Linked DNA regions of Homo sapiens: all the other regions are reported to be linked to region 4. The links are microRNA targets in miRTarBase. Many come from high-throughput screens and were not tested one by one. Region 4 holds a microRNA gene; each other region holds the end of a gene's coding sequence. Distances are between the middles of the regions.

Evidence for each region. Region 4 holds the annotated microRNA hsa-miR-215-3p (UCUGUCAUUUCUUUAGGCCAAUA, at 3,008-3,030, shown strand). A microRNA usually pairs through its seed, bases 2 to 8, with sites in the 3' UTR of a target mRNA and lowers its output. Matches are read on the target gene's strand: a 7mer-m8 pairs with bases 2 to 8, a 7mer-A1 pairs with bases 2 to 7 and ends in A, and an 8mer does both.
Region 1: miRTarBase lists SLC16A5 as a target of hsa-miR-215-3p. The part of its 3' UTR that is shown has no 7-base or 8-base seed match.
Region 2: the mRNA of DEPTOR is a reported target of hsa-miR-215-3p. The part of its 3' UTR that is shown has no 7-base or 8-base seed match.
Region 3: the mRNA of DBT is a reported target of hsa-miR-215-3p. Seed matches in the 3' UTR shown: 7mer-A1 at 2,118-2,124 and 7mer-A1 at 2,769-2,775.
Region 5: the mRNA of TRAT1 is a reported target of hsa-miR-215-3p. The part of its 3' UTR that is shown has no 7-base or 8-base seed match.
Region 6: miRTarBase lists ADCY2 as a target of hsa-miR-215-3p. Seed matches in the 3' UTR shown: 7mer-A1 at 220-226.

Annotation. Positions count from the first base shown.
Region 1 is chr17:75,105,354-75,109,353 of GRCh38, forward strand. SLC16A5 (solute carrier family 16 member 5) reads left to right here. Exons shown (of 7, transcript NM_004695.4): 7 at 527-809. The coding sequence ends at 680. Among named protein-coding and RNA genes, the nearest start is that of ARMC7, 2.6 kb to the right of the region's middle. RefSeq lists an enhancer at 1-337.
Region 2 is chr8:120,049,199-120,053,306 of GRCh38, forward strand. It overlaps DEPTOR (DEP domain containing MTOR interacting protein), which reads left to right. Exons shown (of 9, transcript NM_022783.4): 9 at 378-1,720. The coding sequence ends at 506. Among named protein-coding and RNA genes, the nearest start is that of COL14A1, 74 kb to the right of the region's middle. RefSeq lists an enhancer at 1-127.
Region 3 is chr1:100,192,868-100,196,975 of GRCh38, reverse strand. DBT (dihydrolipoamide branched chain transacylase E2) reads left to right here. Exons shown (of 11, transcript NM_001918.5): 11 at 554-4,108. The coding sequence ends at 721. It also overlaps the pseudogene RPL23AP90. Among named protein-coding and RNA genes, the nearest start is that of LRRC39, 17 kb to the right of the region's middle.
Region 4 is chr1:220,116,799-220,120,906 of GRCh38, reverse strand. It overlaps MIR215 (microRNA 215), which reads left to right and starts at 2,945; the gene lies at 2,945-3,054. The region is part of intron 12 of IARS2 (isoleucyl-tRNA synthetase 2, mitochondrial); the gene reads right to left. It overlaps MIR194-1 (microRNA 194-1), which reads left to right and starts at 2,666; the gene lies at 2,666-2,750. LOC124904515 (a long non-coding RNA gene) reads left to right here and starts at 1,794. Exons shown (of 2, transcript XR_007066883.1): 1 at 1,794-1,922; 2 at 3,024-3,165.
Region 5 is chr3:108,853,430-108,857,535 of GRCh38, reverse strand. It overlaps TRAT1 (T cell receptor associated transmembrane adaptor 1), which reads right to left. Exons shown (of 6, transcript NM_016388.4): 6 at 2,531-3,916. The coding sequence ends at 3,659. Among named protein-coding and RNA genes, the nearest start is that of TRAT1, 33 kb to the right of the region's middle.
Region 6 is chr5:7,826,197-7,830,283 of GRCh38, reverse strand. ADCY2 (adenylate cyclase 2) reads right to left here. Exons shown (of 25, transcript NM_020546.3): 25 at 203-3,565. The coding sequence ends at 3,413. Among named protein-coding and RNA genes, the nearest start is that of CFAP90, 23 kb to the left of the region's middle.

The sequences.
Region 1 (4,000 bases), not on the chromosome of region 4:
GAGGAAGGCTTGCCAGGCAGCCCGAAGACTGTTGTGAAAATGGGGCTGCTTTTGCAAGGGAAGCTCTTTTACTCCCCATTCCTGTCCTCCAGAGGCCCCCCTTTTCCCTGCCGTGTTATTGGTGTCAACCCTGGGGTAAGTGGCTGGCTGGACTCACCCCTGCTCCCCGTACACCTGTGCCTGTGACTGGCGGTCCAAGCTCCCCACACACACATCTTGCTGGTGCCTTTCCCTGAAGTCACCACCCAGGGGCTGGCTGTCATCAGCCCATTCTTGTCCCAGCAGGGTACCGAGGGAATGATAAAACAGAATGTGTTTGAATTACACACAAAAATGTTCCCTGCAGCAGGTCATAAACTCTGTGAACTAATGAAGCTGACAAACAGAGCTGGAGTACGTTTCCCCTCACCCTTCCTTTCCTCCTAGCTCAGCAAGGGGTGCTCAGGTTCAGGATGTTGTTTGTTGATTCAGGCTCAACCAGGCTCCGCAAGAAAACCTTATCAGGAGATTTTATTTTCATGAACAGGTGCCAGTCTTCCCGCCAGCCACGTCCAGCTGGCGTCAATAAGCATCTTTGGGGATGTCCTGCCTCCTCCAGGACCAGCCATGAGTGGCTCTTATGGCCAAAGGCGGTACTGCAGGCCAAGCAAACGGCTCTGGGCTGGAATAGCCCTACCTGAGTGCCCTGTTTGACTCCGCCACTATCTGCCATGTGAGTTGGGCAAATTGTTGACCACCTCTGAGCCTTGAAAAAGTAGGAGGTTACTTTGTTAGAGCAAAATAATAAAATTTAATTTTAAAAAAGAAAACGTAGGAGGTTGGTTTGGATGAGCTAGTCTCTTCCGGTTGAAAAGTCTGACTCGGTGAGCATCCTGACGACTCCATTTCCTTCTGGCTCCCCACCCAGTCTTACACTTGGCTGCCATCAATACCACATGCTCTGAAGGGAGAGTGCTTGCATGGACTTTGCCAAATCCTGTCTGCTCCATCTCAGTTGAATGGAAAAGGAGGGAGGTGGGGCTGGTAGATAGGTGCTTTTGGTGCTAGTATCCACCAGGTTTTGTGTGCATCCCGTAATGAGCCCACTTCCTGAAAACATTTAAAGAAAAAAGATATCAGCTGGAGATGGCAGTGCGCACATGTAATCCCAGCTACTCGGGAGGTTGAGGTGGGAGGATCACTCAAACCTGGGAGTTTGAGGCCAGCCTGGGCAACACAGCAAGACCCTGTCTTTTTTTTAAAAAAAAAAAAAAAAAAAAGGCTGGGTGTGGTGGCTCACGCCTGTAATCCCAGCACTTTGAGAGGCCAAGATGGGTGGGTCACTAGAGGTCAGGAGTTCAAGACCAGCCTGGCCAACATGGCAAAACCCCAGCTCTACTAAAAATACAAAAATTAGCCAGGCGTGGTAGCAGTCGCCTGTAATCCCAGCTACTTGGGAGGCTGAGGCAGGAAATTTGCTTGAACTGGAGAGGAAGAGGTTGTGGTGAGCTGGGATCACGCCACTGCACTACAGCCTGGGTGATGGAATGAGACTCGTCTCAAAAAACAAACAAACAAAAAAAACACTTTGGGAGGTCAGAGCAGGAGGATCGCTTGAGACCAGGACTTCAAGACCAGCCTGGGCAACATAGAGACCCTGTCTCTACAGAAAAATTAAGGAAAGGGAAAAAAAAAAAGCCAAGTGTGGTGGATCATGCCTGTAATCCCAACACTTTGGAAGGCCAAGATGGGAGAATCACTTGAGAGGCCACCCTGGGCCACATAAGGAGACCTCCATCTCTACAAAAAATTTAAAACTTAGCTGGACATGGTGGCACAGGCCTGTAGTCCAAGCCACTCAGGAGGCAGAGGTGGGAGGATCCCTTGAGCCAAGAAGCTCAAGGTTGCAGTAAGCTGTGATCACACCACTGCACTCCAGCCTGGGTGACAGAGACCTTGTCCCCCCTTCCCAAAAAAAAAAAAGGTATCAATGAATGTTCTGCATAGGAAACTTTCATCTCACCTGCTCCTAGGCAAGAATAGCAATCATCTCTGGGCAGAATTCCTTCAATAAATATTTACTGAGTATCTACTGTGTGCCAGAGACTGGGCAGAGGTAAGACCTACCAAGGGCTGAGAATTCCACCCCAAGGAGGGCCCCTCCCTGAGGCCTTAAGAAGGGAGAAGACTGGCTGGGTGCGGTGGCTCATGCCTGTAATCCCAGCACTTTGGGAGGCTGAGACAGGTGGATCACGAGGTCAAGATATCGAGACCATCCTGGCCAACAAGGTGAAACCCCATCTCTGCTAAAAATACAAAAATTAGGCCGGGCGCAGTGGCTCACGCCTGTAATCCCAGCACTTTGGGAGGCCAAGGCGGGTGGATCACGAGGTCAGGAGATCGAGACCATCCTGGCTAACACGGTGAAACCTCGTCTCTATTAAAAATACAAACATTAGCCGGGCGTCGTGGCGGGTGCCTGTAGTCCCAGCTATTCAGGAGGCTGAGGCAGGAGAATGGCGTGAACCTGGGAGGCGGAGCTTCCAGTGAGCTGAGATCGCACCACTGCACTCCAACCCGGGTGACAGAGCGAGACACTGTCTCAGAAAAAAAATACAAAAATTAGCTGGGTGCAGTGGTGCGTGCCTGTAATCCCAGCTACTCGGGAGGCTGAGGCAGGAGAATCACTTGAATCTGAGGCGGAGGTTGTAGTGAGCCGAGATCGCACCACTGTACTCCAGCCTGGCGACAGAGCGAGACTCCATCTCAAAAAGAAAAAAAGGGAGAAGACCAATGAGGGAAGATGGGGTGGCCCATCTGATTCAGCAATCCCCATCTAGCTGATTGCCTGCGAACCTCTAGAGAAGGTCTGGGGCAGTTCCTGGGCAGGGAGGGATGGAGCTTACTTCCATCCTCCCTGTTTCTGGGCTCCTATTTGCTGCTCTGTCCAGCAAGAGGCAGAGAAACCCCTTGGGCACCTAGGGGTAAGATGCACTTCCCAGGCTGCAGAGGCTCCCAAGAGAAGCCAAAGGGCTTTGGTGAGGGTCCTGGGGCCTAGGTACCCAGACTAAGTTAGAAACTCCTGCCTCAGAGGGTGTACATAGGGCAGGGGCTGACCACAAGGACCTGAAACCTCAGAGGTGAGGCCTGCTTCCAATGGGGCTGCAGCTGGCTGGAGTGTGACGGCCACTCTGCCTTCATCCGGGCCCAGGGCTTAAGATAATGGTCCTTGCCTTTGTCAGCCTAAATAACAGAGAGGCTCTCTCAAAGAAAATGATATCTATTTGGGCATAGGGCATTGCAATGGTAGTATCCATGCCATAGTAAACTATATGGGTATTCAGGGAGGTAAAGGAAGACAGGCTTTAAGGGAAAAAATAGGATTACATAATTGTTTTGAAATATTTATCCTTAGGTAGAAGGATTAATAACAAGGGTGACCGCTCAAGGTTGGACAAGCGGTTGCTGGGCAGATGGCCATTCAAAAGTATGTTTTGTGCAAGGTTGTGACGCCCTTTGTGCAAGGTTGTGGTTTTTGCAGAGTCTTTGTGATAGTTTTCATTATCAGGTATTTATGCACGAGAACCCTCTTGTCATGGGTTTCTTGGGCTGTGTCCGGGTTTTTTTGTTCTGTTTTTTAACACAAGTGACTCCATTTAGATTAACAACTTTTGCACTCTCAGGACACTCACAGCCTAAGCCACCTCTACCCCTACGTTGTCAAATGCGATGGGAGTGTGGCTAGACCACCTCCTTCCCTGGTGCTTTGTTTCCTGTAACCACGAGCAATCTATCACACACCCGCTTCCTGATAATCTCCGAGAAGGAATCGGCCGAAGGGCTTCAGCATCCAGAAAGCCCCGAAAGCGCCACAATCAAGGCTCCTCCTCGGGCTCCCCCGTGCTGCCCCGGGCGCGCGCCATCCACCCGGCTGACAAAAAGCACCAGGACATGACCCAGTACCCTTTGATTTCTGTCCAGAGGTGGCGGACCCACCTCGGGGCTGGGATGGAGGGCGGGT
Region 2 (4,108 bases), not on the chromosome of region 4:
AATTCTTACAACAGTCTTATAAGGTAGGTATTACTCTTATTATTATTATTAATTCTTATTTTAGGGTTGAGGGAAATAAAGCTCAGAAATTTAAATACCTAGCTAGTATTTAAATACTAGCTAAAGCTAGTATGTCTCTGAGTTAGGATTTAAGCCAAATTTTGTAAAACACTAAAACGATTTTTTTTTTTTTAAATTATACTGCCTTCCAGAAAATGTGTAGCTCCTTGGAAATTATTGAATTGGAGTCGTCAGCTGGATACATTTGGATATTTTAAGAATGAAGTTACCTGTTAGGGCTACACACTGTCTTTATTAAAGCTTTGTGCAAAACCAGGCGCTATAATAGATGCTCTTTCTTTGCATCTTTCCTTTAGGTCTGTCAGTTTGTCGTCTCTGTCAACGGGCTCAATGTCCTGCATGTAGACTACCGGACCGTGAGCAATCTGATTCTGACGGGCCCACGGACGATTGTCATGGAAGTCATGGAGGAGTTAGAGTGCTGAGCTCCTGGGCCTCCCAGCCCTCCAGTGGCCTGTGGGTGAGGGAAGCCAGAATGACACAAAGCAATGCAAAGACAAGATTGCCATGCAAATGGATGGTTTTGGACATACGAGTCTTCTCCGCACATACATGTCTAAAGTTGAGTTTTATACACTGAATGTGGAAGAACCGGGTATCATATCTTTTTTAAAAAATGTCAGTGTAGAAAACATTTGGGAAACCATTTTCCTACATGATAGAACTGCCTTACTAGATTTCTATTTGTAGCTCTCATTCATTGTTTTTTATCTTAGTTTGCAGAAAGGTGTTGAAATGCTTCTCTAGCCCAAACAGCGACATGCTAAAGTCCCCTTCTTCAGAGTCAATAGAGTAGTTGTTAAAGGTTTTAAATTGTACTTTCTCCAAAATTAGCATGCAGCTATTTAATAGGGAATCTAGATTTCACCAAGATTCAAATCAAAGCAACATTTAAAGGAATAAGACCTGTTCACTAGCATTTTCAAGGGGGTTCTAAAGCATTCAAGTGCTTAAAAGCCATAAAAAATGACTTCTTAATTCCTGCCTTTAGTGTCAACTTTTAAGTTAATACAGGTTTCAATTGTGGCATTAGGAAAAAAAAAAACCTTGTGATGCTATGGTTGGGGGTAGTTAGGGAGAGACTACATGAAATTGTGTGCCCCTATTTTCTTTCTGATCCTAAATCATTTTGTTTTATAAATCAGCTATAGCATCTTTCTAGAATTAATCCTGAATATGTTGAATGTTAAAATAGAGAAGTTTGTATATACACATAATTAAAAATCAACCCTTCTGGCAAGATTTCACTTTGAAGGTGTCTGTTTTTAAGGGAAGGCTAAAACTTTGCTGATATGTGATAAAACTTGAACTCTAAATTGCCTCCTTAGCCTGAATTTTTACTAGCTTTCTAGTGTAACATATTCTAAGGACATGACATGCTGCTTATTTGGGGGGATTATTTTTCACCAAAATGATCATCTTGTGTTGTAACTTTTCAGCTCACTTGTATATACGCACGTTTTCATTTTTGGTCTAGAAAATAGTGCATTTTGGGGCTCAGCGTGCAGAGGAAATTCCTCAAAGTGCCAAATTAGGCAGTCAGGAAATACTAAATTCTTCATTCCAAATAATGGATCTGAATGATGACGTTAATTTTTTATCATGCATTAACAAAATAAAATATGAGAATTGTACCACAGCCATTTCTTTTCATTAGGTTATCGTAATGTATAGGTACTGGTGGAATGGACCTACCGTGCTAAATATGTTATAGACATATATATATATATATATATATATATATATATTTCTGGTAATCCAACTTTTCTGATTTGTAGCTTTAGTCAGAGAATAGGATTTTGGAGTGACAGAGAATGTCTAACAGTAATACTGTTGATATACATTTGAGAAATACTATCACCTCTGTGTGGGTGTGCATTTGTACTGTATGGCAGGCTCTGTGCATTTAATATATATGATATCCTTTAACCCTCAATGCAACCTTGCAAGGTAGATATTAACGTCCACATTTTTCAGATGTGGAAACTAAGCCTGAGCAAGTTTTAAAATGGTCTCTAAATTCACACGGCTGCAGGAACTACTAGGTGAAATAGGCTGAATGTAAACACAGGTTTAACGCTAAATCCCATGTTACTCCCCTCAACTTTTCCCCATTTAAGGACCTTATATTGAGGGTTTATTCTGAGCCAGGCTGTATGCTAAGACTTTACGCCATTTGTCCTTATTTACCTGTGAAGTCAATACGGTCATTATCTCCATTTTACAAATGAGGAAACTGACTTGTAAAGTGGTTAGTCATATGCCCAAGGCCACAAAACTAATAAAGTGGGAAACCTTACCACTGGCTTAAAAAAATTTTTTATAGCATCTTTAAAAGATGAGTCTTAAATGCTTTCTGTGCTCAGGTATTCATTAAGTGACAAAAGAAGAAGGAATACCTTTCGAGAAATGGTATCTCCTTTTGAGAAATGGTATCTTCTTCTTGCCTGCTTTACCCATTATCTTGGACCCTGGCATAATAGAACTTCCCTTCAGCCAACCTAAGCACCAGAGAAGCATTTCTCTGTATCTATTGCACACGATCTCCTCTTGGCTGTGAGGAAGGAAGGAAAGAAGGGAGAGAGGATTTCCTTCTTTGGTTCCCATCACCCTAAGTTCAAAAGCCAAAGGCCATGAGAGCTTTCCCTTAGCTACTCCTCCAGCCCACCCCTGACATCTTTACACAGCAATTAAAAAGACTACCCCTACCTTCCTGGGGACCCTATCTCACTCCCTCCAGCCCTTGCACATGTACTTTCTTCTTCGTGGAAAGAAGAATGTTCTGTCTTACTGTTGCCTGGAAAATTCTTTCTTCATGTAAACTCCCTTTAGAAATTATCTCCTCTGAGAAGCCTTCACCAGCTCCCCAGTTCTAGGATTGATGCCTCTTCTCTAAATTTACATGGATCCTTAAGTCCTCCCTATGCCCCGTTAGAGCACTGATGACATTTACTTTGAAATTCCCCTGTTACATGTCTGTTTGCCTAAGTAGACTCTAAGCATCTGCAGAACAGGGGCTATGTCTTAGTATCCAGGGTATTTTCTTCACCTGGCACAATTCCTGCCACAGAGTAGTGTGTCAGCTCTCTATTGTTGTCTAAAAACCCACCTCAAGGGTGGGGTGCAGTGGCTCATGCCTGTAATCCCAGCACTTTGGGAGGCTGAGGCAGGCGGATCACTTGAGTCCAGGAGGTCAAGACCAGCCTGGTCAACATGGTGAAACCATGTCTCTATTAAAAAATAGAAAAATTAGCTGGATGTGGTGGCAAGCACCTGTAATCCCAGCTACTTGGGAGGCTGAGGTGGGAGAATCGCTTGAACTTACAAGGTGGAGGCTGCAGTGAGCCAAGATAGTGCCATTGCACTCCAGCCTGGGCAACAGAGCGAGACTCCAACTCAAAAAAATAAATAAGTAAATAAAAAATAAAAACCTGGCCAGGCACAGTGGCTCACGCCTATAATCCCAGCACTTTGGGAAGCCGAAGCGGGTGGATCACTTGAGGTCAGGAATTTGAGACCAGCCTGGCCAACAGGGTGAAACCCCGTCTCTACTAAAAACACAAAAAATTAGCTGGGCGTGGTGGTGCACGCCCGTAATTCCAGCTACTTGGGAGGCTGAGGTGGGAGAATTGCTTGAACCCAGGAGGCAGAGGCTGCAGTGAGCCGAGATTGTGCCACTTCACTCCAGCCTGGGCGACAGAGTGAGACTCTGTCTCAAAAAAAATAAAAATAAAAACCCATCTCAAATCATGGCTTAAAAAAAAATAAAAATAAAAACCCACCTCAAATCACGGCTTATAGCAACACCCTTTATTTGCTTATAATCCTATGCTCTGGCAGTCTGGGCAGAGCTCTGCTGGCGTGATCCACCACTGCTCCATGGGTGCCAGTTGGGACTCCACACACCTTTGTGGTTAGTGAGCAGATTGGTTGGAGGCTGATTGACCTTGACTGGCCTCATGTATGTGTCTCAAAGTTGGCTGGGGCTGTCGGCTGAAATTCCTTAGTTCTACTCCACATGGCCTTT
Region 3 (4,108 bases), 120 Mb from region 4:
GGCCTGATCAAGGTGTTGACCTTGGCCGCATCAGTGTCATAGAGCTTCCAGCCTGTTTGATGTGGTGCTTACTAGCTTTAATATCCACAAAGAACACAAGCATGTTGTTGTCCTGTCTTCTTCCTGGCCAACTCAGTGGTCAGGGGAACTTGATAATGGCTTGTTTCCTCACTGCCTTCAGTGAGGAAGCCTTATTTAATTGTCTGTCTCTCCCCAGAGCCTAGAAGAATACTTGGCACATAGTGGGTATACAGTAAATAATTATTAAATATTTGAAATCTGAGATGAAAGTTAATGAATGTAGGTATGGGAATTGTACAAGGGATAGGAAGTACCTTGGAGAACTTCTGTAAGCTCCAGGCATATACTCAAAGATGGGAAGAGTAGGAATCAGCATTTTCAAAAGTCATTGGGGATGCCCATTTTTTTCTGTACTGTACAGGAAGAAGGGTTTGCCTGATCTTACACCATTGTTAGAGCTTGAGCTCTGAACAAGTGAAGGTTTACTCTTTGTTCTTTTTTTTTTTTTTTTTTTTTTTTTTTTCATTTCTAGGCCATTCCCCGATTTAACCAGAAAGGAGAAGTATATAAGGCACAGATAATGAATGTGAGCTGGTCAGCTGATCACAGAGTTATTGATGGTGCTACAATGTCACGCTTCTCCAATTTGTGGAAATCCTATTTAGAAAACCCAGCTTTTATGCTACTAGATCTGAAATGAAGACTGATAAGACATTCTTGAACTTTTTGAGCTTCCAAAGAGTATGTAAACCCTAGCTGTGCCAGCACATGTTCATCTTTACAATTTATATTGTAAATGATTTGTATCGTATGATTAAGGATCTAAGGCACAATATTTGTCACTGTTCTATTAGACTTTTTACTGAAAATGAATAATGGTGTAATGGTTCTCCTGGGGCTGTCACATTTTATAGGTCAGAGTGTGACTTCTTAATATGGTGCTGATGTTTTTGTGTCAATGGCTTGAAACTGGCAAGATTAACAAAATTAGGCCGGGCATGGTGGCTCACGCCTGTAATCCCAGCACTTTGGGAGGCCCAGGTGGGCGGATCACCTGAGGTTAGAAGTTTGAGACCAGCCTGGCCAACATGGTGAAACCTGGCCTCTACTAAAAATACAAAAATTAGCCGGGTGTGGTGGTGGGTACCTATAATCCCAGCTACTTGGGAGGCTGAGGCAGGAGAATCGCTTGAACCTGGGAGGTGGAGGTTGCAGTGAGCTGAGATCGTGCTATTGCACTCCAGCCTGGGCGACAGAGCAAGACGCCATCTCAAAAACAAAAAAACAAAATTCATGTTACTAAAAGACAGGTAGCCATATACAGACAGTATATGCCCTATTTTTTTTAACTGACTCTTAATGAAACTTTAATTTTACTTAATTAAGAAATGGAATTTATATACAAAAATATTTTCCATTTCCGTTATTATGCTAATTGTTGTATGAAATAAGTGCAATTATACTTCTCTTTTGAGATATCCAAGAGTATATTCTTGCTCTGTATAGAGAATATCATCTGATAGTGTCTTATTTATATTAATTAATGTCTTTGAAAAGGGAAAAGTATAAACTGGCCTTAAAATTGTCCAATTATAGTTTTATAACCAGTCTATTAAAGGTGTTTGTTTAAAATGGATATAGTTTTAGATTTGTGGTAATGCTTTGGTATTTTCTTGGGGAAGACCTTCACCTTTGCAAACTTCCCTCATGTAAGGAAGGTACTTTAAATGTAGCAGCCACTGACATTTCTTTTTTTAAAAAAAATTTGAGAAGTCTACTTCCTTTTAACTTTTTTGGTCTTCAGCTAAAAAATAGGATAAGAAATTAAGGTCTATTCCATTCTCCATATCCTGGGTAAGAATGTAAATAAGAGGAGAAGGAAGAGTCTAATAGTAATTATGGATATAAAAAATAAGAAATTTTGTATAGAAATGAAGGTTTCATAATGATCATTTTGTTAAAGGTCTACTTTAATCAGAAATAGCAACGAGATGAATGTATCCAACATTTCAATTTGCATTCGGAAATCCATGTTGTTTCTAATATTGTCCAGTTGAAAACTGTATGCCAAAATTAGTTGTTTAAGTGAAGTTTTGTGACAGAAAAAAGGTTGTTTTAATATCTACTTGGTTTTTCTCAAAATGGAAATAATTTTAAAATCAGGAAAGAATAAATCAGCCAGGTGTGATGACTTGTAACTGTAATCCCAGTTATAGGGGAGGCTGAAGCAGGAGGATCACTTGAGGCCAGGAGTTTGAGACCAGCCTGGGCAACATAGTGAGATCCCATCTCAAAAAACATTATTTTTAAAATTAGCCTGGTGGCTCACGCCTGTAATCCCAGCACTTTGGGAGGCCGAGGTGGCCAGATCACCTGAGGTCAGGAGTTCGAGACCACCCTGGCCAACATGGTGAAACCCCATCTCTACAGTTTTGTAAAAATACAAAAAATTACCTGGGCCTGGTGGCACACGCCTGTAGTCCCAGCTACTTGGGAGGCTGAGGCAGGAGAATTGCTTGAGCCCAAGAGGTGGAGGTTACAGTGAGCAGAGATCACACCACTGCACTCCAGCCTGGGTGGCAGAGCAACACTTTGTCTCAGAAAAAAAAAAAAAAACCAAAAAGCCAAGTGTGGTGGTGTGCACCTATAGTCCCAGCTACTCAGGAAGCTGAGACAAGAGGATCAATTGAGCCCAGGAGTTCAAAGCTGTAGTGAGCTGTCATTGTGCCACTATCCTCCAGTATGGGTGACAGAGTGAGACCTGGTCTCTAAAAAATAAAATAAAATAAAAAAAACAGGTCAAATAAATGCTGTTGTTGTAAAATTTCAGATAATACAAAGAGTTAACCAATAAAAGAAAAAGTCATTCATAATCTTACCACTATTAACATTTTGATGTATCTATCTGTATGTATGGCTATTCTTTTTTGTTAAAACATGATCATAGCATATCTACTATTTTATTATTTGATTTTTAAAATTTAACATTATATTATGGGTAACCTTACATGTCAATAAACAATTCCACATTGTCATGCTTTAAATGGCTGCATAGGCTGGGTGTGGTGGCTCACGCCTGTAATCCTACCACTTTGGGAGGCCAAGGCAGGTAGATCACAAGGTCAGGAGTTCGAGACCAGCCTGGCCAATATGGTGAAACCTCATCTCTATTGAAAATACAAAAATCAGCCAGGCACGGTGGCAGGCGCCTGTAGTCCACCTACTCGGGAGGCTGAGGCAGGAGAACTGCTTGAACCCAGCGGCAGAGGTTGCAGTGAGCCAAGATTGAGCCACTGCACTCCAGCCTGGTGATAGAGCGAGACTCTGTCTCTAAATAAATAAATAAATAAATAAATGTCTGCATAGTATTCCATTGTATGCATTTATTATACATTCAAACATTAAACATCTACCATACCAATCATGGTTCTAAGCATACAGTAGCCACCTTCATGCTTCCTTGATTGGGCTTACAGTCTAGTAAGGAGACAGATATTAAATAACTGCATAAAACACTGTTCTTGGTAGGTAATAACCCAGATGCTATGAGCCATCCAGTAAAGGTTACCGATCTTATCTGGAAGGATCAGAAGATGGATGTCCCATAATTTAACCAATTATCTATTGATAGGCATTTATTGAGTTTTAAATGAATAATGACATGATCAATAAAAATGTCCTCCTCACTTAAAGAATAGAAAAACCAGGAGAAGGGAGTTCTGAAATAAGTAAGTATGTAGGTCCAGCATCAATGGCTCAAGATACTCTATTCCCAAATAACCCTTAAGTTATCTGGTTCTATTCCAACCCTTGGGTATTACTATCTTCTCTTTGGTCTCATGCATTGAGAATTCAGCAAAGGATTTGTTCCCTACAGTGTGCACGGCCCTTAGGATAGCAGGATTCCCTGAAGAGGGCCAAAGGGGCAGGAGCGCAGCCTTAGTGGCAGTGCTGGTCCATGAGGCTCTACAAAGCAAGGGATGGGTGTTTGGGAGGAGGAAAAGGCTCTTGCTGTACTCCTAGAGGTTGGAATTAAAGTGGAAAAGCCAGAAAATTCAAGTCCTTTACTAACATGTCTGGAGATTAG
Region 4 (4,108 bases):
CTAAATGCACTTTAGTAAGCATTATGTTCTATAATTCGGTTCTATTATGAGATTCTAGATAAATTATTTGTATTTTTAAAACAATAAAGTTAATTTTAAAATAAGAGAGTAAAGAAAAACCCAACAAATACATGTTAATTAGCTAGATTTAGCCATTCCACAATGCATACATATTTCAAAACATGTTGTACATAATATAAGCAATTTTTGTCAATTGAATAAATTAATTTTGGGCGGGCACGGTGGCTCACACCTGTAATCCTAGCACTTTGGAAGGCTGAGATAGGTGGATCATTTGAGCTAAGGACTTCAAGACCAGCCTGGGCAACATGGCAAAACCCGGTCTCTACAAAAATACAAAAATTACCCAGGTATGGTGGTGCGTGACTATAGTCTCAGCTACTTGGGGGGTGCTGAGGCAGGAGGATCACTTGAACCCAGGAGGCAGAAGATGCAGTGAGCCGAGATTGCACCACTGCACTCCAGCCTGGCAACAGAGTGAGACTCCATCTCAAAAAAAAAAAAGGCCGGGCGCGGTGGTTCACGCCTATAATCCCAGCACTCTGGGAGGCCGAGGCGGGCGGATCACCTGAGGTGGGGAGTTCGAGACCAGCCTGACCTACATGAAGAAACCCCATCTCTACTAAATATACAAAAATCAGCCAGGCATAGTGGCGCAAGCCTGTAATCCCAGCTACTTGGGAGGCTGAAGAAGGAGAATCGCTTGAAGCTGGGAGGCAGAGGTTGCAGTTAGCCAAGATCCCACCATTGCACTCCAGCCTGGGGAACAAGAGCAAGACTCCAACTCAAAAAAAAAAAAAAAAGTGTGACAGAGAGCTTTGAAAACAAAAATTGCAATAAAAATAAACAGACATATAACCCACAAACTTGAGCTAGGTATAATGATGATAAAAACAAAGATAAACTTAATGTTCAAACAAAATCTAAAAAGATAATTTGAAAAAAGTATATAAAGTTAACTGTGAACAAGTGCTCAAAAGACACTCATTATAGAGATGTGACAAACATCTAACAAAATCCAAACACTGGATAAGTTATGTTCATTTGATTTTCATACACAAGGAACTAGGCAACCATTAAGAGCTAAGCTGACATTTTTAACAGGTACATATTCATTCTTCTATAACTAATTAAATTACATCTTCTTTTGTATATCATTATGTTCCTTTATAAACAACTGTATTGGACATCTTATATACATATCCTCACACAAGAGGTATTAGTCCTATTTCCTTTGGGTAAATACTTAGAAGTGGAATTTTTTTATAATGAAACCAAGATAATACTTAAAAGATTTCTTAAATAATTTTCTGTTTCCTAAAAAAATTTTTAAACAATTTTCTAACTATTTCCTTGTGATATTTAATATTCTTCAGAAAAAAATGCAGGAAAATTCCTAATTTGTCTGAAATTTAAGAATTCTACCTTCATTTCTTTAACATTGTATACTTAACACAAACTCATAGTTAACCTATAACCCAAAGATCAGTATAAACGACTGCTGATAAAAGTGGGTGAAACCACTTACCAGTATGTAATCTATATGCTTCCATCTTAATGCTTTACTTCATAAAGCAATAAATCCATCATAAAACCTTGTACTTTACTCAAAGGCCTTATCTCAACACATGCATTACGTGTCCCTTCTTAGGTTTCAATCAGTGAAAATCCACTAGGTAGCATGAGCAACTATGACATCAGCCAATCATTCTGAACTTCGATATCAACCGGAATGAGGCTTATTTAGCGTGTTATGGACATTAAGCAGCATTAAGATTACTAAAGCAACAAAGAAACGACTGCTGTCATCCCACTGTCTTCTGTGTTTTGCCTTTATAAGCAAAAATATTGAAGATTATTAAGACAACTTTTCTTCTGTAACTTACTGGAAGAAGAATGAGGTAAGAGGCTAAATGTTTCACATTTGTTTACTAAATTTAATTCTAGAACAATGTGAAATTTGGAAGGGGAAATTCTATTTTTAGTTTAATCCTAGATTTATGTTTTAAAGCTGACAGAAAACCATTTTGAAGAAATTTTTCTTTATTTAATGAACATAAATTTTTTGAACAAAAGGTTTATTATTGTTAACTGAGAAAAAATTTGAGGTAGCTAAAGTTAACACTCAAATTATATTGGAAATTCCTTGGCTATTTTTACTAAATTTCTCATAATTTCCAGAAGTTAGGGGCTAAGTTTCACTATGTTAACTATAGCATTAATAGCATGAAAGTGATTATAACTGTTTGAAATGATGAAAGAAATTTAACCAACTTCTTTTCCTTCCCAGGTAGCCAGTGTTTCTACATTTTATCTTTTTTATGCTAAAAATTATTTCTTCTGTTTTTATTGACTAGTAACAGATTTCAACCCAAATTCTAATGGCATTATCTCACAGATTCAAAAAATGACCAATGACAGTAAAGTCAGAAATGGAATTATTTCTTGATAAAATACAAATATGATCTAAAATGCAAATGACACTATTAATTCAAATCAAAATAAAACATCAGCGTTTCAAATCTACCAGTCCCTAAACTTATTTAGAACATGAATAAATCGAGACTTTCTTCTGTGAAACAAGTATACTTAGAGATATCGTACAGCTCCCATGATGAGCAAAAGGAATCTCCTTATATGTTTAATGGTGTTATCAAGTGTAACAGCAACTCCATGTGGACTGTGTACCAATTTCCAGTGGAGATGCTGTTACTTTTGATGGTTACCAACTTGCTACAATATAAAGGTATAATAAAGAAAGACAGAAAATTGTGGTCACTTGGACTCTCATTTGATTCCAGCAGAAAAAAAGATTTTCAGCCTGTTTTATAAAATTAACAAATGATTAAGAATTAATATCAATTTTCTTAAATTCAAGTTTTGTAACACCAAAAAGATCCAATAATGGAAGAGGATTAAAGTCATCATTCAGAAATGGTATACAGGAAAATGACCTATGAATTGACAGACAATATAGCTGAGTTTGTCTGTCATTTCTTTAGGCCAATATTCTGTATGACTGTGCTACTTCAATATCAGAAATCGACTAACACCACGCAACCAACGCAATGGCAGGTACACAGAAGATAATCTGTAACACTACCATGTAAATGTATTGAGTAAATAAAACATAAATATACCTAATGAAAACTTGTGTTTTTCTGACAAAGCTCATATTTATTTAACCTAACTTACTGACCAGTCAACCTATGTACCATTTAATTATCAGGATGTATCAATTAAACCAGTTTGCTATATTTACTAATACATACATATGATCCACCTCAGAGTCCAGAGGGCTATTCCACCAAGGAATCCCCACCCACCTCAATCACTTCAGTGAAATTCCCTAGACATCTTGCTCTCTAAATAGTGAAAAGAAGAGTAGCCGGGCACAGTGGCTCACGCCTGTAATCCCAGCACTTTGGGAGGCTGAGGCGGGCGGATCACTTGAGGTCGGGAGTTTGAGACCAGCCTGACCAACATGGAGAAACCCCGTCTCTACTAAAAAATATATATATATAAAATTAGCCGGGCGTGGTGGCACATGCCTCTAATCCCAACTACTCAGGAGGCTGAGGCAGGAGAATCACTTGAACCTGGGAGGCGGAGATTGCAGTGAGCTGAGATCGTGCCACTACACTCCAGCCTAGGAAACAAGAGTGAAACTCCATCTCAAAAAAAAAAAAAAAAAAAAAAAAGAAGAGGAGACAATGACATGGCTTATAAAACTTTCCAAAAAAAAAAAAAACTTTCCAGTGTGAAATTTTAAACAAATGTTTGTGGAAACTCGTCTCAGGTATAATCACTTTAATTCTTTTTCTTTTAAACTAAGTCTGAGGCTGGGCATGGTAGCTCATGCCTGTAATCTCAGCACTCTGGGAGGCAGAGGTGGATGGATCCTTTGTGGCCAGGAGTTCGAGACCAGCCTCGTCAACGTGGCAAGAGCCCATCTCTACTAAAAATACAAGAATTAGCCAAGTCAGTGGCGCGTGCCTGTAGTCCCAGCTACTCAGGAGGCTGAGGAGGGAGAATCACTTGAACCTGGGAGGTGGAGGTTGTAGTGAGCCAAGATCACATCACTGCA
Region 5 (4,106 bases), not on the chromosome of region 4:
AGGTTGGTTCAAAGATGAATCTACTGTCTTCTTCCTATAATGTATTCCAACTAATACATGAAGAAGGAATAACAGGACTAGCATATCATTTTGCAAGCTCCTAATGAAACAAATGATCTTGCCAGGCGTCAGCCAACTATGGCCCCTAGGCTACATCTGGCCTGCTTGATTTTGTAAAAAAAGTTTTATTGAAACTGAAAAAAAGGAGAATCCACTGTCGTGATTCAGGTACCCACCCTTGATGCATGACTTCCTAGGTAGTAGAAGCTGTGAGTGGGTGCAGAAGAGCCCTTCAGAAGAGGTTAAAGAATGGCAAATAGCATTTAGAAGTGTACCTCTGTTGAATTTATATTCTGTCTTGTTCCTTTCTGTCAATGCTCTGTTTTTCTGTGTTAATATAAATTGTCTGTTCTGTTAATCAAATGACAAAACCTCAGAGGAAGATTTAAAGCATATGTCTAAACTAATCACCCTCCCTTTACTCTGCTAGAAATAAGCCATTTAATACCAAAAGGAAATGAGTTATCCCTCCTATTTTTGAGATTTGAGTTCAACTTATCGGACCTTTAAAACATTGTCAGTGAAAATCTCAAGACTTGGAATTCATCTGTTTTCTAGTCATGATTTTTCTTTTTCTTTTCCTCCGTACATATTTTTTTTCCAGTTGAAATGTTAAGGCTTATAATGATACAGGCTGAGGATCCATAATCTGAAAATCCAAAATCCAAAATGGTCCAAAGTGGAAAACTTTTTGAGTGCCATGACTCCACAAGTGGAAAATTCCACACCTGACATTATGTGATGAATGCACAAAATTATTTACAAATATTACATAAATAGCCCTCAAGCTATGTGTATATAAACATAAATGAATTTTCTGTCTAGGCTTAAGTCGCATCCCTAAGATACTTCACTACATATGAATAAATATTCCAAAATCTAAAAATCAGAAACACTTCTGTTTCCAAATACAGGATATTCATCCTGTATTCCTTCTGGAACATAAGCCCTGAAAACTGCCAAAGGTGATGTATATATAGTCCCTAATAATTACATGATGATCAGTAATTCATAGCTTACTCACATTTCAAATGATCCTGCTTAGCTTATCGAATTATACTAAATTACACTAAAAATATACTATAGAATTACAGTAAAGTGGTAAGAATGCCTTGGATTTCTGCTTCTGACAAAGATAGAATAACATCCTAGATTTACCCTACTACCTGAACATACTCTGCCAGCTGAAACAACTAAACTCCAGACAAAGTAGATGAAACAGTGTTACTTGACATACTGTTTCAGGCAATGAAGGACAAAGGTCGGTCCCTGAAAGATGGGAAACAAATGAGGTAAACCTTCCTATCATCCTATCTTATTGCCTGGAGAAAAGTTTCAGGCCTTGGAGCAGGTAGAGGAAACCTAGGTAAAAGACCATTGATCTCTTGAATTGAGGAGATGGAGCTCCAGGTCAAGAGAAGTCAAAAAGGCAGAATACTGGAGAGAAGAGAGCTGCGTGTAGAGAAAACTCTGGAGATATGTGAAGAGTCGCCGTCAAGTATTCAGTTAAGTACTGGTCAGTGCACGCAAGTGACAAAACTACCCGAACTTGGGGAAAAACCCACCTGAAAATAATAAAGAAAACAGTGCCCATGACTCACACATGGCTGGGAATAGTGTCGATTATCAACAGCCAAAGTGGAAAACGTCCTAATTCATGAACGGTGGTACTAAGTACTAACGAGGATCTTTCCTCAGTAATAAACTAAATTTAACTTAGTCTAAAAGCTGCTCTGGCTTAATCTAACAAAATTTAAAAGCAAGATTCTAAATGATCAAATTGTGTTCAAGTAACTTGATAGTTTTCAGTTAGCTATGTCACTGAAAACAAACTATCAAGTTAGTTTTCAGCTACATAGCTCAAAAACATAAGAATGCAAAAATATGCATTGCCAAACAAAGGAAAATGTACAGTATTTTCTGCCTAATTAAAAATCATCAGGCATTTAGAGAGGCAGAAAAATATAACCCATAATGAGAAAAATAAATCACTTGAAACTCATTCACAATGACAGATAACAGAATTAGTAGATTTTAAGAAGCATTAAAACAGTTGTTACAACTGTATCCATTGGTTGAAGATGTTAGATGAGAGATTAAGTACGTTAGAGACATGAAATATGGGGGACAAAAGACCCAAACTAAATTTATAGAAATAAAAACTAAGTTATCTGAGATTAAAAAGTCCTGTCTAGGATTATGGCAGATTAGATCATTTAGAAAAAAAAGATTCATGAACTTGAAGATGTAGCAAGAAAAACTATCCAAAATGAAATACAAAAAAGAATGAAATAAAATAAACAGATAAGTAAAATGTGGGACCATTTGCAAGTAATTGAAAAACTTGAAAATGCGGAGGGTCACAGAAAAAAAAATATTGGTCATTTTCCCCCACCCAAATTTGATGAAAATATAAATACATAGATCTAAGAAGCTCCACAAATTCCAAACACAAGACACTTGAAAAATAACCATACCTTGGCATATTATAATCAAATTAGAACCAGTAATAAGGAAAGTCTTAACAATCAGAAAAATAGCGTGTATCACACTTAAGGACAGAGACAAGTATTATAGTATGTGTTTCTGATGAAACAGAGAGAAGACAGTGAAGCAGTATTTTTTAATTATTGAAAGAAACATTGTCATCTCAACCTTGCTTTTTGCATCAATAAATTGTTTTTGAAAAGTCATTAAAATTATTTAAATAAACTGTGATTTGGTTATCAGTGGGGTGCTAAGCAGACATTAAAATTACAATATATGCGTATTTATATATAGTTAAATATAACAGTGAAAATAAATCCACAATATATTGTTGACTGGAAAGAAAGTTTAAGTAATGTGTACAAAAGAAACCACATTTTTGGTTCAAAATAAAAAGAAACAACTGATGTACATACATAAGCATGCCCAGAAAAATATTTAGAAGGATATATAGAAAGTTTCTCCAAGTGACTATCTCTGGCTAGTAGAATTCCTAAACTCTTTTTGATATTTGTTTGTTGTAAGGAGCATGCATTAATTTGACAATTTTTGAAATAGTAAAGCTATCTTTGGGAAAAATACTTTGTAAGAAAATTATATTACTTCTCTTAGTAATGCATTTTAATGTTTCCTATACCTTTCAATCAGAAATTTATTTCAATTATGGGCTATTGCCCATTGGTGAGAAAGGAGAATTAAAAAAAAACTCATTGGCTTTTATTTTTCTTCTAACGTGTTCCAGAACACATTCATGCTTAAATTTTTATATTTCCCTAAGTATTAGGTATTGTGAATTTGTAATCTTGTTATCAGGCTCAATTTTCAAGCTGGGTCTTATTAATTTTTAGTATATGTGCTGCCGAGGTGAGCACATTAATTTTTTACATTTTAGTAGTAAAGCATTTTTTAAGTTATTTGAAATACTGATTTTCATGGCCTTACATTTGGCATGCATAAGTGTAAGCTGTGAATAAGAGGTAAGCCACCATCCCATCAACAAATGATCAGGTCATCACCCTGCTGCCAAGTCCTTCTGTGTCCTCTGTGCATCTTGTTTTCTTAGAAGCCATCTTCAATAGGAGCCAAATCATTGAACTAGATCATGGTCCAGCTAGTTTATAGGTTCTCTCTTAGCACGGATCAATCCAAACAGTCTGATGGGATCATCATGAATGTTTTCCTCTACTGCCTGGCTTTCTGGGGAGAAACTGTCTACTAAGGTGGTCTTAGAAACGCTGGCATCTATTGCATGTAGTTGCTCATCTCCATCCTTGTCTGAGAAATGAGTATTCTGTTTCCTGGGCTTTCTACGCTTCCCCTTAACGCTGTGATCAAGTGAGGCGTAGCACATCTGTGTTTCATTGGTTGCCTAAAAGAAAGGGATGTTAATTTTTCATTGTTAGTCTGTTCTTTAGCTTGACTTCTGGAAATTTCTGTGGCGTATGAAAACCAAGTAACTTGTTTTCTAGGCCTCACCTACCTTGTTTTGCCAAATTTGTCAGTACAAAAAACAAAAACAAAAAACAGAACAGAAAACTATAGTCAGCCAACACTCTTGA
Region 6 (4,087 bases), not on the chromosome of region 4:
AAAGATCTCACATTTGTTAGGCCATAAGAGAAAATGAAGTATATTTCTCTCGGTATCCCAATGTTTATCATTTAAAGCCAATGCATGAATGCTTGTTAAAGCCATCACACATCATATCTTCTTATATTAATGGATTGTTTTGGTTTATCAAATTTTCATCACTGGGCAATTATGTTGCTTTTTCTTTTTTTTCTTTTTTTTTCTGAGACAGAGTCTCGCTCTGTCACCCAGGCTGGAGTGCAGTGGTATAATCAAGGCTCACTACGTTCTGGACTTCCTGGGCTCAAGTGATCCTCCCACCTCAGCCTCCCATGTAGCTGGGACTACAGGCACGTGCCACCATGCCAAGCTAATTTTCTTATTTTTTTGCAGAGATGGGGGTCTTGCTATGTTGCCCAGGCTGGTCTCAGACTCCTGGGCTTAAGTGATCCTCTCTCCTCGGCCTCCCAAAATATTGGGATTATAGGAGCCACTGCACCCGGCCTGATGATGTTACCTGGTCATTCGGTGTATCCAGAGCAAAGGAAAGATGAATGGTTGCTGCCTTTAGGAGCACAGTGAGTTGGGAAGGAAGAATAACATCCTGGATTGATGACAAAACTTAGACACTCCTAAACAGATATGTAAAACACTGGGGTTTTTGGGAAACTGGACTGGAGGCAATTTCTATGAGAGGCTTCCTGTAAGACTTAAAGGTTAAGGAGAGCATTGGGGAGAGATTTTTTTTTTTTCTTGAAGCCAATGGCACTGGGACCTGGGCTGATGAGAGGTGCACTGCCAGTTTTCTGCCTGGCATTTTTGCTCACAGGGATGCTTTTAGCTGCCCAGAACTTTAAGGAGCTTTGACCAGGAATAATGCTCTTTCAGATTCAAGGAACAGGCAGTTTTCCATTCTAGCCTGGCCTCAACTGCTAATCAACTGTGGAACTCTGAACACATGTGCCTGAATTACTCTGCCCCTGTTTCCTCACCTGCAAAAACACTGGGGAGGGAGGGAGGTCTGAAGCTTGATCAGGGATCAGAATCACCTGGAGAACCTGTTCACTAAACAGCAGTTGTGCTGGGCCCCAGCCCCGGGGATCTCAAATTCAGGGTCCTCCTTCAGGTTGGGGCCTGAGAATTTGCATTTTTGATAAGTTCACAGGGGATGCTAAGGCTGCTCCTATGGGACCACACCTAGAAGGGACCAGGTACACACAGAGCTTCCCATAGTGGATTCTGACAATGACTCAATGCTTTTAAAAGCCTATTGTTTGGTAAGACTGGTGATATGGCTTTGGGAGAGCACAGTTCTCCTTTTGAGTTCTTTTTAGCGCAAACCCAAGTTCGGTGCACCCCGTGGGGGAATGGGAGGGACTCTGTTTATGAGAACTTGGTGGACCACCCAGCTGGGGGTGTTCACTCAGGGTAGGTGAACTAAGGTGACCTGCGGATGAGTGTAGCAGGATGTAACAGAGGAAGAACCCACGAGGCACGCCTGCTGCTCATCCTTACACATTTTACACCAAGGCCAGTTTGAGCTCACGGAAACGCTACGGCATCCGTGAAGAATGAGTTAGAGGAAAGAGAAAAGCCCTTGTAATAATTCTCTTGCTTTAATCACTGTTTTTGGAGATTTAGGTATATTAAGGCCAATGCTGAGTTGTGATTACAGGATCAAAAAATTCCCCATTGAGGCAGAATACTAAATAAGTCATGCTCTACTCACACTTCGGTGATGAAGGACGGTTATCAGCTTCGATAAGTGCCTTTTACTGGGAATGAGTCACAGTCCTGGCACAGCAGCTGTGCCCGTGCTGTGAATGTACCACGGGGCACCTGCCAGGCTCGCTCACAGTCATTGCCTCGTTTAATCACTAGCGAGTCCATAAGTTGCCAATAAGGAAAGTACTCCTAAGAGGGACTAAGAGATGTGTTCAAAGTCACACAGCCAGTAAAAAATCAGAGCCAGGATTCAAACCAGGAACTTGTGCTTCAAGTTCGAGTTCCCACGAATAAAAGGCTTCCTAAGAGATCATCTGGGTTCTCTACTTCTTACAGATGCCTGCCATGAGTTATAAAAAGAAAACAAGTTTGACCAACTGGGCTACAATTTGCAGTTTTGCTTTTAAACATTAGCTTATACACGATTGCTCTACTTTTCACTATTTGGCAAAGTATGATTTCTTTATGTTAAAAGTACCAAACAACTTGTGTTGGATTTACAAGAACAAATTCTTCAAGGCCTTCTGTCTTTAAAAATGCATGAACGTTGGCTGTGTGTCTTCTTTAGCCTTCTCAGACTTAACAGGCAGTTTGTGGGTCTTAGTACTTCTCTCAGTTAGCTCACGCTATTGTGAGACTGATTTGCATAGCTGATTCCAAATTATTCTTTTGCAGTCTATGTCTGTTAGCTCTAGCAAAACATTCTTGGAGACAGGAGCGTAGTGGACGGAGGGGGCACTGTTGCTCGCAGAGAATCTTTTTACTATTAAAGTATTTTTCCCTGAAAGCGTTCTCTAGAGATGCCCAAATTAAAATCAGACCACTAGATACATTCAACATGCTTGCCTGCTTTCCAGGGAGCTGAGTAACCAGTTATCTGCGTCACACACTGTGTCCTAATCTGAATTACATCTCAATATTGGCTTCTGGAGAGCTCTTTCTGAAACAACTGTGTCAAAAGGGAGAATGGATGGAAAACAAACCTTAATTCTGGAGCAAACCACAGGAGAAAGAAGACAGGAAAATAAAAGATACAGGCACTGTAAATCAAAGTACATAAAACTTTTAATGAATTAACTTTACAAAAGACAAATGGCATCAAAACATCAGACGAGTTTGATACAAAACTGGTCCTAGGCTGTGAGGACTAATTCTGGTGACGGATGGCGACGTGCTGCTGGCATGAGACACACGGAGCAGAGGGACGAGAGCCGTGGGTCCCAACGGGGGCCCTTGGACACCACTGGCAATGAGACAATGGGTGAGCACAGAGTCCACGTGGGGGACAGAATCAACTTATTCACGAATACTGTGTGTTTGAATATCAGATGAGCAGATGCGGTTGGCGAGCTACCATATTTTCCAGAAAAGAACATGCACCAGAAGATAATATACACCCCCTAGTTTTATTGCCTTAAGAATGTGTGTGTGTTTCACCTTTCTCCTCTGTTAGTTCTCCCAGTGCTTTTCTTCTATCACGCGCGCTCCTTTTCCCTTTTGCTTAGGAGCAAGCACAGTGCAAGTGGCAGAACGATCTGGGCACACATCAGACACCAAACGGTATGCCACTGGGTCACGAGAACGAGTCTGCAGAGGCTCCATAGGACAGACAGCACGCACATCAAAAACAAGGGACAGAAGTTGCAGTCAGAAAGTGTGTGATACCTTCCTGAAAATACAGTCTTCTTGCCAAAATGAAGGTGACTCTTCAGGATGCCACGTTGCTCTGGGAAAGGGACCTTGACATTTCTGTGTTTACAAAGTACGTCTTCAGGTCCCCCTTTCCTTTCACGTTGATTATTCCTCGACAGGTGCACGTGTATCCGAGGGTCTGCAGGACGAGGCTCGTCTCCTCGGTAACCTAGAAGGCACAGGAACACGGGAAAACGGGCTTAGTACATACATTGATACAACCCATCTGACTCAAGGATGCAGAGCTAAAAAAAGCACCATGCTCTTTGACCCAGGAATTCCACTCCTGAGAAGTTAGTAGAAAAGTGAGAGTAATCCACAAGAAAAAAAGGTTGTAAAGGACAATGTTGTTTAATTCAGCGCTGGGATAGTGAAAAACTGGAAACAACCTAAAATTCAAGTAACTCCAGTAAACTACGGTGCTACCATGATGCTATCATGGATGACACAATGTCAAACCATTTCACCCAGAAAAGGAATTGAGCCTGGATCCAGGCTATGATTTCAACCACATGATGTTATGTATTCACACTGAAGAGACCTGGATGAAAGAGAGTAAACCAAAATAGATTGGAGTGGTGGGATTCTGGATGATGTTTATACATTGTCATGAATGTCCTTTCATGAAATAAACATTAATCATAGATGTCAGTGTCGATGGGAGGAACACCCCGAGAAGGAGCACTGAGCA